Regions from separate parts of the Homo sapiens genome. Here region 1 is linked to region 2. The links come from fine-mapping of genetic effects on gene expression. A gene starts in region 2. The other region holds a variant in brackets. All regions are shown on one strand. Distances are between the middles of the regions.

Evidence for each region. PIP is the estimated chance that this variant, and not a neighbour inherited with it, causes the effect. A credible set is the group of variants that fine-mapping cannot tell apart.
Region 1: its variant is the best candidate, but not a certain one, in a credible set for the expression of NUP107 in tibial nerve (GTEx, PIP 0.58).

What each region holds. Positions count from the first base shown.
Region 1 is chr12:68,767,571-68,776,359 of GRCh38, forward strand. It overlaps SLC35E3 (solute carrier family 35 member E3), which reads left to right. Exons shown (of 5, transcript NM_018656.5): 5 at 1-8,789. Among named protein-coding and RNA genes, the nearest start is that of SLC35E3, 26 kb to the left of the region's middle. The variant C/A (reference allele first, on the strand shown) is at 5,214.
Region 2 is chr12:68,683,379-68,692,167 of GRCh38, forward strand. NUP107 (nucleoporin 107) reads left to right here and starts at 3,600. Exons shown (of 28, transcript NM_020401.4): 1 at 3,600-3,695; 2 at 5,584-5,675; 3 at 6,155-6,241; 4 at 7,253-7,368; 5 at 8,590-8,734. The coding sequence starts at 3,688. LOC100507250 (a long non-coding RNA gene) reads right to left here and starts at 3,481. Exons shown (of 3, transcript NR_038930.1): 1 at 3,359-3,481; 2 at 2,485-2,639. It also overlaps the pseudogene RPL7P42.

The sequences.
Region 1 (8,789 bases), 84 kb after region 2:
CAGTAAATTTTATGTTTTGTGTTTTTTAACACAATAAAAATATATATACACACATATAATATACCTTTGGGGTTTTTAGGATTTTTTTTTCCTGGACTCTGAAATGAGAAGCCTCGCTGAAAATCTGTTTTGGAGAATTCCAGTTTGTCAGTCAGTCTCTTGTGTAATTAGTACGTGTGGCTTCCTTCTTTGTTTTAAATATTCTTTGGTTCTTCTCATTTTACAAAGATATATATTTTTTGTGCTAAGGACAGAGCAATTAGTTTTTACCAGATAAGCCTCGGGTATTATGTTTGTCTAAGAAACATTCTCTGTGTATGTTTAAATTGTAATTATTTCCCAAAAGCTGAGGAAAATGTTTCAGCACAGTGAGGATTTGACGTCTGCACTGAGAACAGCTGAGTTTATTTGTGCCATTTAGAAATTCGTAACTGTAGGCTGGGCGCAGTGGCTTACGCCTATAATCCCAGCACTTTGAGAGGCCAAGGCGGGTGGATCACCTGAGGTCAGGAGTTTGAGACCAGCCTGGCCAACATGGCGAAACACTGTCTCTACTAAAAATACAAAAATTAGCTGGGCATGGTGGCGGGCGCCTGTAATTCCAGCTACTCGGGAGGCTGAGACAGGAGAATCACTTGAACCAGGGAGTCGGAGGTTGCAGTGAGCCGAGACTGCGCCATTGCACACCAGCCTGGGTGACGAGAGTGAAACTCTGTCTCAAAAAAAGAAAAAAAAAAAGAAATTTTTAACCGTAAATAGAACTTGGGGAGGGTGTTATATAATATATGTGTCAGTAGGAAGGCAGTAAGAAGATTGGAGTAAGACAGGATGGGGTTACATGTATATAAATGAATAAAATAAGTACTGCTAAAACTTGAGTCTGATAAACTTTTTTGCCCCGAAGATAATCATCCCACTGAAAAGAAAACTCTGGGGAAAATATGCCAGATACTAGGACCAAGCACGGAGACAAACCAGATACAGTGCTTTCAAAGAAAACATGCTTGCTGTCCTTTGTTACCAGTGTAATTGTAATTATTGTTTATTCTGTGTTAAGTGACTGAATTTCAATTTTTACCTTTTAAAAATAAAGAGAACCTCTTTTTACTTCTGTATTGCATATGAGAGCTGATGGAAGAAGGATGGCATCTGTGTAACATATGCATGGTAACGCTGACGTGTTCAGCTGTTCATATTTGGCCTGTCCAAATAAGCAGAAATGAATGAAACAAAATTCCATCTCCTTTTAGAAATAACATAAAGGAGAAATCTATCTCTGTGAAATGAAGTAAGCATTCTTCTGTTTCACTTTTTAAAATACTTTTAAAATCTTGCTGTTTTCAACCTATTAATGACTTTTTGAAATTGTATTTCAAAGCAGAAACATTAGGTTGGGTATGGTGGCTCACGCCTGTAATCCCAGCACTTTGGGAAGCTGAGGTGGGCAGATCACCTGAGGTCAGGAGTTCAAGACCAGCCTGGCCAATATGGTGAAACCTTGTCTCTACTAAAAATACAAAAATTAGCCAGGTGTGGTGTTGCATGCCTGTAGTCCCAGCTACTTGGGAGGCTGAGGCAGGAGAATGGCTTGAACCCGGGAGGCGGAGGTTGCAGTGAGCCGAGATCACGCCACTGCACTCCAGCCTGGGCAACAGAGCAAGACTCCATCTCAATAATAATAATAATAATAACAAAGCAGCAACATTAATCAAGCACTCTGTATTCACTCCGTCAGTAAATACTGTCGGGTGAATGACTGCAGAATGGCCAAAGGTGAGAGTTTGATTAAAAGAAAGGAGACCTTGGCCGGGCACGGTGGCTCACGCCTGTAATCCCAACACTTTGGGAGGCTGAGGTGGGTGGATCACCTGAGGTCAGGAGTTCGAGACCAGCCTGGCCAACATGGTGAAACCCCATCTCTACTAAAAATACAAAAAAATTAGCTGGGCGTGGTGGTGGATGCCTGTAATCCCAGCTACTTGGGAGGCTGAGGCTGGAGAATCCCTTGAACTTGGGAGGCGGAGGTTTCAGTGAGCCAAGATCATGCCATTGCACTGCAGCCTGGGCAACAAGAGCAAAACTGTCTCAAATAAATAAATAATAAAAGAAAGGAGACCGGATTTATTAGATGTGGTCCGTTTTGTCTTTCTGTTCCCAAACTTAAACTGGATTATACCTGCTAATATCAGGAATATAATGATAATTGCATTCATTCAACAAAAATTTATTGAGCATATACTGTGTGCCAGGTACTGTCCTAGGCATTATGGATATAAAACAGTTTTTATGTAGAGACAGTCCTATATTTCCTGTGATCTTAAGGAACATTTGTCTAGTATTAGAGATAGGACTAATTAAACAAAAACAAGACAAGAATAATTAAACAGCAAACTCAATGAATGCTAAAGGGAACATCGTTCTGTGAGCACATAACAAAAGAATCTGGCCCAGGCTTGGCACTTGTGGAGGGAGTCCATGAGGAAAGTTTGAGCTGCAGTCATAGATACATAGAAGTTAGCTAGCTAGGCAGAGGGAGGGTATTGCATTCTGGAAAGAGGGAATAGCACATACAAATGCCTAGTGGTTGGAGGAATTGTGATGCTTTTAAAGAACTGTAAAAAGGATGGAGTCTGGAGACTAAATTTGGGAGTGGGGAGACATGGTGTGTCCTGCACCTGGAAATGTAGATAGACCTCAGGCCATACAATACCTGGAGGCTATGGTAAGCATCTTTAGTAAGAGCAAGGGGGAGTGTTGTGAGCACTGTCACAGTAAATTTCTTTTTTTGAAATTAGTGGAGGAGAACCAGAGAGATGCCAGGAGACCAGTTAGTTGGGAGATGACTGTAGTTAGAGATGGTGGTAGCTTCAAAGGTAGTGGAATGAGATAAGTGGAAATAATTGAGTAGCTGGAGTCAACTGGACTGGAGATGGATTGGAAATGGAGGGCATGAGAAGGGGTGAAGTTAAGGATCACACTTCAGCTGGGCACAGTGGCTCATGCCTGTAATCCCAGCACTTTGGGAGGCTGAGGTGGGTGGATTGCTTGAGTCCAGGAGTTCGAGACCAGCCTGGGCAAACATGATGAAACCCCATCTCTACAAAGAATACAAAATTAGCTGGGCATGGTGGTGTGGGCCTGTGGTCCCAGCTACTCAGGAGGCTGAGGCGGGAGGATCTCCTGAGCCCAGGAGTTTGAGGCTTCAGTGCGCCATGATCACGCCACTGCACTCTAGCCTGGGTGACAGAGTGAGTCCCTGTCTCAACAACAACAAAAAATCACACATGTCTGATTTGCGCAGCTTGATAGAGAATGGTGCCATTCTCTGAACTAGGAAACACAAGAAGAGGACTGAGGAGAGGGATGAGGCAGAGGAATATTATGGGCCTTCTTGATACTGAGATATCCAATTAAAGATGTTGGCCAGGCATGGTGGCTCAGGCTTGTAATCCCAGCACTTTGGGAAGCTGAGGCAGTCAGATCACTTCAGATCAGGAGTTTGAGACCAGCCTGACCAACATGGTGAAACCCCGTCTCTACTAAAAGTACAAAAATTAGCTGTGTGCGGTGGTGCATGCCTATAATCCCAGCTACTTAGGAGGCTGAGGCAGGAGAATCGCTTGAATCTGGGAGGCAGAAGCTGCAGTGATCTGAGATTGCACCACTGCACTCCAGCCTGGGTGACAGAGAGAGACTCTATCTCAGAAAAAAAAAAAAAAGATGTTAATCAAATAATTAGTTTATAGAGGCCCAGAACTCAGGAAAATGTTTAGTTGAGGTGGAGATAAAACAGGAGTTTCTGGGGTATGCCTGATAAGGAGGAAAACAGACCAAGATGAGCTTGCTGAAGAAGATAGCATAAAGCAAGAACAGACTATAACTGAAGTTGAGGAACTCTGGTATACAATGATAGAACATAATGCTGCAAAAGAAACAGAGAAGGAACAAAGAGGTGGGAGGAAAATGGGCCGGGCACTGTGGCTTATGCCTGTAATCCCAACATTTTTGAGAGGCCAAGCTGGGTGGATCTCTTGAGCTCAGGAGTTCAAGACCAGCCTGGGCATCATGGCAAAACCCTGTCTCTACAAAAAATACAATAATTAATAGTTTCGAAAGAAAGAAACCTGCCAAGCAAAAGTCCGGTCTCAGCCCGGGAGCTAGTAGCATGCAGTGGAACAGGTCTCACCTGGACGGCAGCACTGGGACTTCCAGTCCAGACTCTGCCATTCACTGGTATAGCCTTTGGCAAAGCCTTTGGGCAGCTTGCTCAAATCTTACTTCTCAGTTTCTTCACCTATAAAATGAGGGCTTTGATCCAAATAATTTCCAGGGGACTGTCCAGCTCCAAAATCCCCTGATTCTGCTTTTTCAGATTAAAATTATAATTTCTCATTTGCTTATAATAAAAGTAGATTGAATAAATTAATCAGAAGGGTTTGGTTTGTTTGACCTTTTTTTTAATTTTAATTTTTATTTTTTATTTTTTGAGACAGAGTTTCCTCTGTCTCCCAGGCTTGGTTGTTGTGGCTCAATCTCAGTTCACTGCAACCTCCGCCTCCCGGGTTCAAGCGATTCTCCCGCCTCTGCCTCCCGAGTAGCTGAGATTACAGGCACCCACCATCATGCCCAGCTAATTTTTTGTATTTTTGTAGAGACAGGGTATCACCATGTTGGCCAGGCTGGTCTTGAACTCCTGACCTCAGGTACTCCGCCCACCTCAGCCTCCCAAAGTGCTGGGATTACAGGTGTGAGCCACCACGCCTGGCCTGTTTGACCTTTATAAGATCAATTTTTTTGTTCACAAGCATTTCTTTACTCATAGATACCATTTTTATAACTTATATGAGACGCATTTAATGTAATCATATTACTTTCTTATATTAGAAGATAGGATTTCTTCTGATGTATCGAAGTTACTTTATACTTCATATGAAGTCATTAGGAGGTGAATTATTGCCAATTCAATGAATTATTTATGAGTATTAGGGGAATGTTTTTGTTATGCTGCTTTTAATTTGGAAAGCAGCATATCACTCAAACTATAGTAATTCACATTTTTCCATTTAACTAAAAATGTCTCGTAACTACTATGCCACAAGAACAAGCATGGATACTTATTTAACCAGCCAAGACTATGCATTTCTAAATATTTATTTTTTTCGGTTATCCGTAGACTTTTCCTTTTGAAATCCAACGATCTGTATCAACCACGT[C/A]TTCATTTTCCTTTTCCTGTTTGTCTTACTCTCCCCCCAAAAAGAGTCAGTTTCCTGTTTTCTCAATTTCTCAGTTTAAAATTAGAGCCCTATGGCAGGTGCCATGTACAGCTGCAAAGGTGGCAAGAAGCCCTGAGAAAGCTCAAGAAGCAGGTCAAGGGGGTGGGTAAGGAAGATGGGACGTTCAAGCAGAAACAAAAAGAGGAGCTAAAAGTGAAAGCCACCCCGCCACCAGCCCTCACCAGTCACAGGTGGAATTAAAGAAATCTGGCAAAAAATAAATTTTGTTATCCGTGCTTGGGGCGGTGACCCTTGACCCCATTCCTATTTAAACATCTGGATTCTCTGCCATAACATCTTTTGCCACCTATAGCTACAATAAAGTGTCGTCTTGGAGTCTGTTGTACATTTAAGAATAAACTTTTGTAAGGAAGTAAAAAAGAGTCTACAGTTCAGTGCAGGATAGGGATGGGTGGGCCTTAATTCAGGAGGTGGGAGGCTCAAAATCAATTACTCTGTTGAGGAGATGGAATCTCCTGGAATCTCAAAAAGGATTTCCTTTAGGAATCATCAGACTCATCCGACTCGTCAAGTCTTTCTCTGCTTGGAGTTTTGTTTTGTTTTTATTTTGTTTTGTTTTGGAGATAGGTTCTCCCTCTGTCACCCAGGCTGGAGTGCAGTGGTGCAATCACAGCTCACTGCAGCCTCGAATTCCTAGGCTCAAGTGATCCTCCCACCTCAGCCTCCTGAGTAGCTGGGACTACAGGTGTGCACCAACAGGCCCAGATAATTTTATTTTTTGTAGAGACGGGGTCTTGCTATGTTGCCAGGCTGGTCTCCAACTCCTGGCCTCAAGTGATCCTCTTGCTCTGCCTCCCGAAGTGCTAAAATTACAGCTGTGAAACACCGCGCCTGGAGTTTAAAAGCAAGATTAACCTTTTTGGACTGGAGTTCTTAGAGAATTATGGTGTGACTCATTGACCATATTTGTTAGGATCAGCATTTTTATATGATTTAACACAAAATGTTACAGAAAAAAGTGCAAAAATGTTGTAAGGCACAGTTGGTTTCCTAAGCAAATGCCCATTCCTATTCTTTGTTCATCTCCACTCTAGAGGCTAGAAATACTAAATTCTCTTTTTACCTCGTTGCCTTGTAGAGGGATGATCATATGACATTTCACCAATGGCACATAATTCAAAGTCTGCTGAGGATTTCTAGGGTATCCTGATTAAAAGGGACAGATGTGGCTGGTAGTGTCTATTACCACCTCCTTCCTGCCTTAAATGTAGCTGCGGATGTCTAGAATTGTGCTAATCAGCTTATGACTATAAAAGAGAGGTGAAGAGAGCCAGATCTGAAAGTGGTGAGCCGACCAGGCACAGTGGCACACCTGTAACCCCAGCACTTTGGGAGGCCGAGGGAGGAGGATCATTTGAGCCCAGGAGTTTGAGACCAGCCTGGGCAACATTGCAAAACCTGTTCTCTGTGAATAACTTAAAAATTAGTCAGGTGGCCAGGCGTAGTGGTTCACACCTGCAATCTCAGCACTTTGGAAGGCTGAGGTGGGTGGATCACCTGAGGTCAGGAGTTCGAGACCAGCCTGACCAACATGGAGAAACCCTGTCTCTACTAAAAATACAAAATTAGCTGGGCGTAGTGGCTTATGCCTGTAACCCCAGCTACTCGGCAGGCTGAGACAGGAGAATCGCTTGAACCAGGGAGGCAGAGGTTGCAGTGAGCTGAGACCACGCCATTGCACTCCAGCCTGGGCAACAAGAGTGAAACTCCATCTCAAAAAAAAAAAAATTAGGTATATTGGTGTGCACCTGTGGTCTCAGCTACTCAGGAAGCTGAAGCAGGAGGATTGCCTGATCCTGGGAGGTTGAGGCTGCAGTGAGCCATGATCATGCCACTGCACTATATGCTGGGCAACAGAGGGAGACCCTGTCTCAAAAACAAACAAAACAAACAAAAATAAGCAAAAAAAAAAAAGTGTTGAGCAGCTAAAACAATGCCGTTAGATGCCCTATCTCTTAAAAAAAAAAAAAAAAAGATAAAATAAAAGAAATTGGGTCTTGTGGCCAGGTGCGGTGGCTCACGCATAATCCCAACACTTTGGGAGGCTGAGGTGGGTGGATCACTTGAGCCCAGTAGTTTGAGACCAGCCTGGCCAACACGTCTTCTTGTTCTAGATGAAAAGTAAACCCCTATTTGGCTTACTCACTTAAAAAAATAATAATAATTAGAGACAGGGTGTTGCTATGTTGCCCTGGCTGGTCTCACTCCTGGGTTCAAGTGATCCTCCTGCCTCAGCCTCCCAAAGTGCTGATATTACAGGCGTGAGCAACCATGCCAGCCTGGCTTAGCCACTTTTAATTATTACTCGTAGCTGCAAGAATGCCAATGAGCATTTGGGGTAAAAAGGGGCAAGAATGGAGGACCTGCTCTGTCTGTCGGACTTTGGAACTCAGGAAGCAACAACTAAGCGTACTCGTTGTCTTAGTCCATTTTGTGTTGCATAGAACAGAATACCTGAAACTGGGTCATTTATAAAGAAAAGGAATTTATTTCTTACAATAGTGGAGACTGAGAAGTCCAAGGTACAGGGTCCACATCTGGTGAGAGACTTCTTGTTCCTGGGAACTCTCTGCAGAGACCCAAGGTGGCAGAGGGCCTCACGTGGTGAGGGACTTGAGCATGGTAGCTCAGGTCTCTCTTCCTCTTCTTATAAAGGCACCAGTCTCACTGGGCAGAGCCTTCATGACCCAGTCACCTTTTAAAGGCGCCATCTCTCAATATTGCCACATTGGGGATGTTTCCAGATGAGTTTTGGAGGAGACAAATATTCAAACTACAGCACTGGTTAAAAATAAAAATAGGGCCTGGCGTGGTGGCTCACGCCTGTCATCCCAGCAGTTTGGGAGGCTGAGGCAGATGGATCACCTGAGGTCAGGAGTTCGAGACCAGCCTGGCCAACATGGTGAAACCCCGTCTCTACTAAAAATATAAAAATTAGCCAGGCATGCTGGCGTGTGCCTGTAATCCCAGCTGCTCAGGAGGCTGAGGCAGGAGAATGGCTTGAACCCGAGAGGCAGAGGTTGCAGTAAGCTGGAATCACACTATTACACTCCAGCCTGGGTGACAAGAGCGAAACTCTGTCTCAAAAAAAAAAAAAAAAAAAAAAAAAAAAAAAGGCCAGACTTGGTAGCTAACACCTGTAATCCCAGCACTTTGGGAGGCCAAGGCAGGAGGATCACTTGAGGTCAGGAGTTGGAGACCAGCCTGGCCAACATGGTGAAACCCCGTTTCTACCAAAAATACAAAAATTAGCCGGGCATGGTGACGTGTGCCTGGCAGAGGTTTCAGTGAGCCGAGATCATGCCATTACACTCCAGCCTGGGTGACAAGAGCAAAACTCTGTCTCACAAAAAAAAAAAAAAGGCCAGGCATGATGACTCACGCCTGTAATCCCAGCGATTTGGGAGGCCGAGGCAGGTGGATCACTTGAGGTCAGGAGTTGGAGACCAGCCTGGCCAACATGGTGAAACCCAATCTCTACTAAAAATACAAAAA
Region 2 (8,789 bases):
TGCTCTGGAGCAAACAGTTGGAGTTTGAGTGTCTTTGGGAAAGACGCTTCCTGGCCTTCAGCTCCTGAGGAGCTGTGCTATCCCAGACCTTTTCTCCAGTTTCTTAACAATTCCAAGATCTCCTGATGTGCTTCCAGTAAATTCCCTTTTGTTTAAGTTAACCATAGTCAATTTCTGTCATTGCAACCAAGAATACTAAACATAAAGCTACCATGTATACAATATACACCACATAAGAAATTTATTCCACATCCTTTTAAGGTAATGAAATGAATATGTTTTGAAATTTTGGCAGGGTTGCTATGGTGTTCATGCCTACTAATTAAATGTGTCAAAAGTGAAACCCAGTGCACTTTCCAAAAAGTTTTCCATCTTTGCATATGAACTGAACACAGGGCTAATTTTTTTGCCCCAAACACAGGGCTAATTTTTATTGTGTGCTTCATGGTCAATCACCTCAAGTACACTTCAAGTATACTACACGAATAAAACTCATTGGAATTCAACTGCTGAGGGACACAGAGCAAGAACATGAACCACAGATCATACTTTGAATAAACTTGCCCCAGCTCTGATTAGGACTACATTTCACTTTCCATAAGAAAAAGTGAACTTGTATACAGGAAAATTAGGAGGTGGGAGAATGAGACCATGCCAGGGCATTATTCTTCAGAAAGGTTATTAAAGGAGAAAAGTAACATTTCAATGACCTGCTATGTACAGTGTATACAGTTGATGTCTCTGTTTTTTTTGTTTGTCTGTTTTGTTTTTTTGAGACAAAGTCTCACTTTTTCATCCAGGCTGGAGTGCAGTGGCATGATCATAGCTCATTGCAGCCTCGGCCTGCCAGGATCAAGTGATCCTCCTGCCTCAGCCTCCCAAGTAGCTGGGACCACAGGCACGTGTCACCACACGTGGCTAATTTTTAAAACTTATGTTAGAGACAGGGACTCCCTATGACATCTTGTTTAATCCTCACAACACCCCCTGACAAAGGTATTGTTTTCTCCACTCTACAGATGAGGAATCTGCAGGTGCAGGGGGGTTGAACCTAGATGGAGCCCAAAGCAATGTTTTTATCAAAATGCCATGTTGTCTGAGAGGGGATAATAAGGTATGAAGAGGCCTTCCGGGGAACTATGCTTCCCAGAATTACAGCAGAACATAAATGCCTAAGGCAAAACTTCCACTGATTTCCTCTTTCCCAGCTGAAACCATGGAGGGTATTGAAGACAAGAAAAAGAAGATTCCTGCTGTGCCAGAAACCCTTTAAAAATGTGAGGGAAGGCTGGGCACTGTGGTTCATGCCTGTAATCCCAGCACTTTGGGAGGCCGAGGCGGGTGGATCATGAGGTCAGGAGTTCGAGACCAGCCTGGCCAGCATGGTGAAACCCCGCCTCTACTAAAAATACAAAAATTAGCTGGGCATGGTGGTGCACGCCTGTAATCCCAGCTACTTGGGAGGCTGATGTACAAGAATCGCTTGAACCGGGGAGGCAGAGGTTTCAGTGAGCCAAGATTGCATCACTGCACTCCAGCCTGGGCAAAAGGGCAAGACTCTGTCTCAAAAAATAAAAATAAAACACATGAAGGAATTTCACAGAGCTAAAGGTCAAGTGCCTGAGAAAGAAGTTTGCCCATAAAATGCTTTGAAAAGAAAGGAGAAGGCCAGGCGCAGTGGCTCACGCCTGTAATCCCAGCACTTTGGGAGGCTGAGGCAGGTGAATCACCTGAGGTCAGGAGTTCAAGACCAGCCTGGACAACATGGTGAAACCCCATCTCTACCAAAAACGCAAAAATTAGCCGGGTGTGGTGGCAGACACCTGTAATCCCAGCTACTCAGGAGGCTGAGGCAGGAGAATCGCTTGAACCCAGGAGGCAGAGGTTGCAGTGAGCCGAGATGGCACCACTGCACTCCAGCCTGGGCAATGGAATGAGACTCCATCTCGAAAAAAAAGAAAAAGAAAAGCAAGGAGAAAGCTACATCTATGAAAAAGCTAGGCACTGTCAGATGTGGTGGCTAACCCCTGTAATCCCAGCACTTTGGGAGACCCAGGTAAGAGGATGGCTTGAGCCCAAGAGTTTGAGACCAGCCTGGGCAACAACATAAGACCCCATTTCTCCAAAATATTTTTAAAAAACGGGGGAGGAGAGGAGGTCAGGCATGGTGGTGCGTGCCTGTGGTCCCAGCAACCTCAGGTACTAGGGAGGCTGAGGTAGGAGGATTGCTGGAGCCCAGGAGGTCAAGGCTGCAGTGAGCCGTGACTGTGCCACTGCACGTAAGCCGGGACAATAGGACAAGATCCTGTCTCAAAAAAAAAAAAAACAAAGAAAGAAGGAAGGAAGGAAACATAATTTAAAAAATCAAGTCCAAAAAAAAGCAAGCAAGAAGTAAAAAAAAAAAGCTCAGCACTGTCACAAGAAATATATGGCAAGAAAAGCTGGCAATTTCTATATACCTGTGAAACCCAAATTGTCACTTGCCTTAAGGATCAAATGTATCAATGGTGTGAGCCCAAAACTCTGTTGCAACTTCTTCACTTTCCCCAGATCTTCAATGGCAGCTTTGTTAAACTCAACAAGGCTTCAGTTAACACGCTGAGGATTGTGGAACCATATATCACATGGAGTACCTGAACCTGAAATCAGTAAATGAACTGATCTACAAATTGGTTATGGCAAAATCAATAAACAAATTACCTTAACAGATAACGCTTTGATTGCTAGATTTCCTGATAAATATGGCATCATCTGACTGGAGAATCTGATTCATGAGATCTATGCTGTTGAAAAACTCAAGTTCCTGTGATCCTTCAAATTATCTTCTCCACGAGGGAGAATGAAGGACTACCTATTTTGTATTAATAAAAGGTATAAATGCCAGCAACAGAAAAGACTATATCAACAGGCTTATTAAACGGATAAACTGAAGCATCTAACATTATTTTTGTAATCTGGTCAGTTAATAGCCAGTCACTACTTTCAAACTGGAAAAAACAAAAACCAAAACAAAAATGTGACTGACTCCTTCAAGACCAAAATACACCACTTTTTGCCTAGACGGCACTTTGAAATAGAGGGCAATACCATCATATTTCACGCTTGCCTTTCTACTTTTTAATACAGGTGAACTTTTTCTCCTTAATAGGAAAGAACACCAAGTAAAGAACAAATAGCAGTTATGGAAAATAGTTGCAAAAACTGCAGGGGGCTACAGAACAAAGGACTGAGTGTAGGCAGAGAGATAGAGATCCCCGAGGTGTGGGGCAGAGCCCACGCATCTGAATTCCAAGAACAGGCGCTTTCTGACAGAGAATACCAGGAAATGACTTCACATTTTTCCAGACTATCAACATACTTCATTCTTCCCAGTAGGAGAACCCAGGGCCTGTTCCACGCCCACAGACTTTGGTCAGGCAAAGCGGCCGCAGGGCGTCTGGGCTAAACGCAACCAGGAACACATTGGCAAACTTTTGCGCCTGCGCCCACCGGGCGTGCACCTGTAGGCTGAAGTCGCGCATGCGCTAGATGGGAACGTTGTTTCTTCTCCCCTACCCCTTTTCTGTGGGTCTGTTTTAGGGACAGACTGCTTCCGGGTCGAAGGGCTTGCTTCCGGAGAGCGGGAAGGCTAAAACGCGGTAGCTAAACTGCAGCCAACTTTGGTTGTGTGTGGAAAAGGCTTTAGCCATGGACAGGTCAGTACTGATGGTGGCAGCTGAGCCCGAAGTCTTGCCCGTCTCGCCTGTTGGCGAAACGAAATAGGTGAAACTAGACTCCCAGAAGAAGCCAAGGAGGTCCCGGGTGCTTCCCCTAAGGCTCCTTCCCCATGCCGGGAAATTTGGCCACAAATGGGGAAAAAGCCGCTTGGCGTGCGTCGGGGTGGGGTACAGATCATAATAGTCCCTTACTTTCCCACTACGTTCTGCGATCTATTCGGCGCTTTGGGGCAGCAACACTGTTCGCTCCTGGGGTGGGCGGGGTAGGTAGCGCGGCGTTCGAAATGCTAAGTGACCAGCCTGAGATCACAAAGCCAGTCAGTGAAGATACTGGGATCTCAGCCCAGACTTTCTGATTACAAGTGCCAGCATCAGATTCTGAGTTCCCTCTATGATCTGGGTACTGTGCTAGCCGCCTACAACAAAGATCAGTTATTCAAGATCCTTCCCCTCGGGGAATTAGTTGTGTAATGGAGACAACCAAGCAGTGTAAAGTGGTAAGTGTTTGGGGGCGATTAAGTCTCCTTGTCACTGTAACTATCAGGAAGACCCCTCAAAGAAGGTAACTTTCTAGCTGGTCTTTGAATAATAAGAGTACATTATTCGTACTCCAAACATTGAGTACCTACTATGTGACTGCCATTGTTCTAAAGGCGTTGAATATATATTATTAGCTTATTTAATCTTCAGAACAAGAAAAATCCTATGAGATGGGTACTGTTATCCTTTTTTCATATATAACACTGAGACTAAAAGAGGTTAAGGAACTTGCTGAAAGTTCGGAAGCTAATAAATACAAGAACCAAATTGCCAACCTGCATCTGTGTGTCTCCAGCCTACCTGAGGCTCTTTGAGGAGTAAGTAGTTGTTGACCAGGTGCTCAAGGGGGCAAATGTAGGTCTTTGTAAAAGAAGCATATTCAGAGGTGCTAGGATATGAAAAAAAAGTACGTGTAGCTCAGTGGTCACATGCAGTATACGTTTAAAGTGATGTTTGTGGCTGAATAGAAGACTGAACCCCTAAACTGGGGTCACATTGTAAATATCATTTTAGGAAATTTTTACTTCTATAGACCAGAGAGCTATCTGAAGGTTTTTTTTTTTGTTTTTAATTTTAATTGTTAAACGTTTAAAATTGTTTCTATGTGGTTGTTTCCCATACTTTCCTGCTGAAGGAATATCTGAAGGTTTTAAGTGGAGGAAAAGCATATTAGATTCTTGTCTTAAACACAGGCCTTTTAGTCCGCACAATTTAGTTTCTAGACCTTTGAGTGAAACTGACAGGGAGTGTTGTGATGGGACAGGAGACCTCCTGGGTTGAAATAACTTGAAGGGTCATTTTGCTCCAATTTACCACAATTCTTTTACTTACCCTTCTATCTCACAAGCTCTGTTTGTTGTTGTTGTTGCAAGCTCTGTTTGTTGTTGTTGTTGTTTGTTTGTTTTTTAATAGTACCCATGGTTTAAAGCATTTTGGAGACTGCAGAAAATCTTTTAAGAGAGAATTCCTGCAGTTAGGTAACTCCTCAATCCAACAAGGGAAATAAGATTCACTTTCATGAAGCAATTATCTAAAACAGTGTTATAATATAGATTCCAAGTGTTGAAATAATTCCTTAGGAGAAAATAACATAGTGAGTACTAGAAAGTCAGAGAAGTCTTTGTGCAGGTAAGATTTGAGTAAGGCTTTGAAGAATAAGCAGGATTTGGAGCCAGGAGTGCGTTCTCAACAAAAGATCTAAGACTTGGCTACTAGAATGACTATACCTTAACTTACTCAGGGTCCTTTACTCCAACTGTGATGATAAAATTCTTTATAAATGCTATATTCTCGTTTCACTTATATAAGCTTGATTATACTACTTTAGGAGTGGCTTTGGAGAGATATCATCCCCTGTAATCCGGGAGGCAGAGGTGACACGGACTGCACGGAAACAGAGTGCTCAGAAAAGAGTTTTACGTATCCTTTGCGATTTAAGCATCATTATAAAAATTGTAACATGTTTGGAATCAGTGTTGTAGAATTTTCTTTTTATAAGAGTATTAAATGGTAGCTATAATAAAATCCTGTAGAAACTTTTTTTCACTCCACAGAGCTGTCATTTGGTAAATATAATGCAAAAATTTAATGAGATCGTATTTCCCTAAAAATAAAGATATTTCTTACTGCTGACAGCTTCTGCTGAGATTAGATTTCTTTTTATTATTTGAAAACTGACTAAAAACATTTAGTTCAGTGTGTAGTTATCTAAGACTGACATCTGATCATTTAAATGGCAGAAGCAATGAATTATTTACCCTTTGCATTGAAAAATGGTAGCCCTAAAATACTTGTTCTTGAAAAATGTATTCACATAATTTGTATAGTAAAAAGATGGTTAATTCTCATTTTAGTGATCTCTTTTCTACATGGAAAACTTTTCTTAACTCGTTGTACAGTTCAGGCATCTCAAGATGAAAATTTTGGTAATACTACACCAAGAAACCAGGTTATCCCTCGAACTCCTAGCTCATTTCGACAGCCTTGTAAGATTTTTTGCTTTTAAAGCATTTAATAATAACGGTAATTATAATAGCAACTAACATTTATTGTAACATAATTAGTATAGTATTTGGTTACGATATCAATAAGCACTAATAATAATGATTGCAGTTATTATTCGTTTGAACTCTTGCCATGTACAAGGTACTGTACTTTCCATAAACACACGGTAACTATGACATGGGTATTGTTGGCCCTGTTTTACCAAAACTGAAAGTGAGACTTAGAGAAGTTAACTAATATATACAATAAGTATGTAAATAGGCTGGATGCAGTGGCCCATGCCTATAATCTCAACACTTTGGGAGGCCAAGGTGGGTGGATCACTTAAGGCCAGGAGTTCAAGACTAGCTTGGCCAACATGGCAAAACCCTATCTCTACTAAAAATACAAAAATTAGCTGGCGTGGTGGCACATGCCTGTAATCCCAGCTACTCCGGAGGGTGAGGCAGGAGAATTGCTTGAACCCGGAAGGCAGAGGTTGCAGTGAGCTGAGATTGTGCCACTGTACTCCAGCTGGGGCGACAGAGCAAAAAAAAAAAAAATCCCAGTTCCATTATTTACATACTCTTTTTTTGTTCTGAGACAGAAAAAAAAGAGTATGTAAATAATGGAACTGGGATTCAAACAATGATCTGTTTACTCCAAAGTTTATGCCCACTACACTGCACTGCCTCAGTATGCCTTATAAAATTAAAATATGAAGAATCCGTTGACTGATTAGTGTCTTTAACTGCTCAGTTATTCTATAATGAAAGCATCTGTAATTGCAGTAAAATGTTTCCTGTTAGGCTCAGTAGTACCTACAGCTCAAATTTAGAAAAATAAGTTAAATCCTTGTATCATGGAAATGTTAACATTTAAAGTATTTATTTGGTTAGAGTCTAAATAATGGAAAACTGAAAAATTTATTCTTCATTGTTTGTTTGCTTACTTTGTTTTGATAATGAATGCTCACGCACTTTAGGTTCTTTCTACCAACCTTTTGTTTATAGTTACCCCAACAAGCCGAAGCTTACTAAGGCAGCCAGATATTTCCTGCATTCTTGGAACAGGAGGGAAGTCGCCCCGACTTACGCAGTCTTCAGGGTTCTTTGGAAATCTCTCCATGGTATGTAGAAAAATAGGGCTAAGAACTCCTTTTGGGTCGAGTGTGGTGGCTCACATCTGTAATCTCAGCACTCCCTGAACTCCTGACCTCAAGTGATTCTCCCGCCTTGGCCTCCCAGAAGTCAGGAGTTTGAGACTAGCCTGCTTAGCATGATAAAACCCTGTCTCTACTAACAATAAAAAAATTAGCTGGGAGTGGTGGCTTATGCCTGTAATCCTAGCTGCTCGGGAGGCTGAGGTGTGAGAATTGCTTGAACCCAGGAGGCAGAGGTTGCAGTGACCTGTGATTGCAAAAGAAAAAAAAAAGAGAAAAAAGAACTTCTCCCTTTTTATAAAAATATGATATTTGATGTAAAAGTCTTTTAACAAATATTGAGTCAGAATCATCATAACAGTAACTTTAGGTTATATGGATTGAAATAATTAGACAGTAAAAAAACTGAAAACCTTATGCATCTGATATCACAGATGGAAACTGTGACACCAGCAACCTTTAGATGAAAATAAGATGTTTTAATCTGTCAGTTTGCTGACCAGAAGAAGTACATGCTGTGGTTGGTTGCTGATGGCTATAAAATCTGATCCCTGTTTTGAAGCATACAAGAGTAGGAATCAGAGGTTAACAGATGAAGAATATCTTAAGGAAGAGATAAAATGTATTAAAGGGGATAAAAGAGAAAATTGGAAAAAGTAGGTGAGATACTCTTTAGGAATCACTATGGAACAGTATTAAAAATAGCAAAAGAAATGTTATGTAAGCTGTGATGCAGAATGACTTCACCTAAGTATTAAAAATACACTATAGTAGCCGGGCATGGTGGCTCACATCTGTAATCCCAGCATTTTGGGAGGCTGAGGCAGGTGGATCACATGAGGCCAGGAATTTGAGACCAGCCTGGCCAACATGGTGAAACCCCATACCTACCAAAAATACAAAAATTAGCCAGGCGTGGTGGCACGTGCCTGTAGTCCCAGCTACTTGGGAGGCTGAAGTGGGAAGATGGCTTGAGCCTGAGAGGCAAAGGTTGCGTTGAGCCATGATCGTGCCACTGAACTCCAGCCTGGGCAACAGATCCAGACCTTATCTCAAGAAGGGAAAAAAAAAAAAAAAGACGCATACATACATATAATTTTTAGAAACCTTATTTGTTTTTAAAGTATCCACTCAGTGACAATAACTCCATCACTTTTCTGTATTTTTACTTTTTTGTTTTTTTTTAAGGTTACTAATCTGGATGACAGTAACTGGGCAGCTGCATTTTCATCACAGCGTTCCGGGCTGTTCACAAACACAGAGCCCCACAGTATAACAGAAGATGTAACTATCAGTGCTGTTATGTTACGTGAGGATGATCCTGGAGAAGCTGGTAAAATGGCATTGAGCTTTGTGACAAGTAGCTTTTCACTTTAGCAAGATGAAGG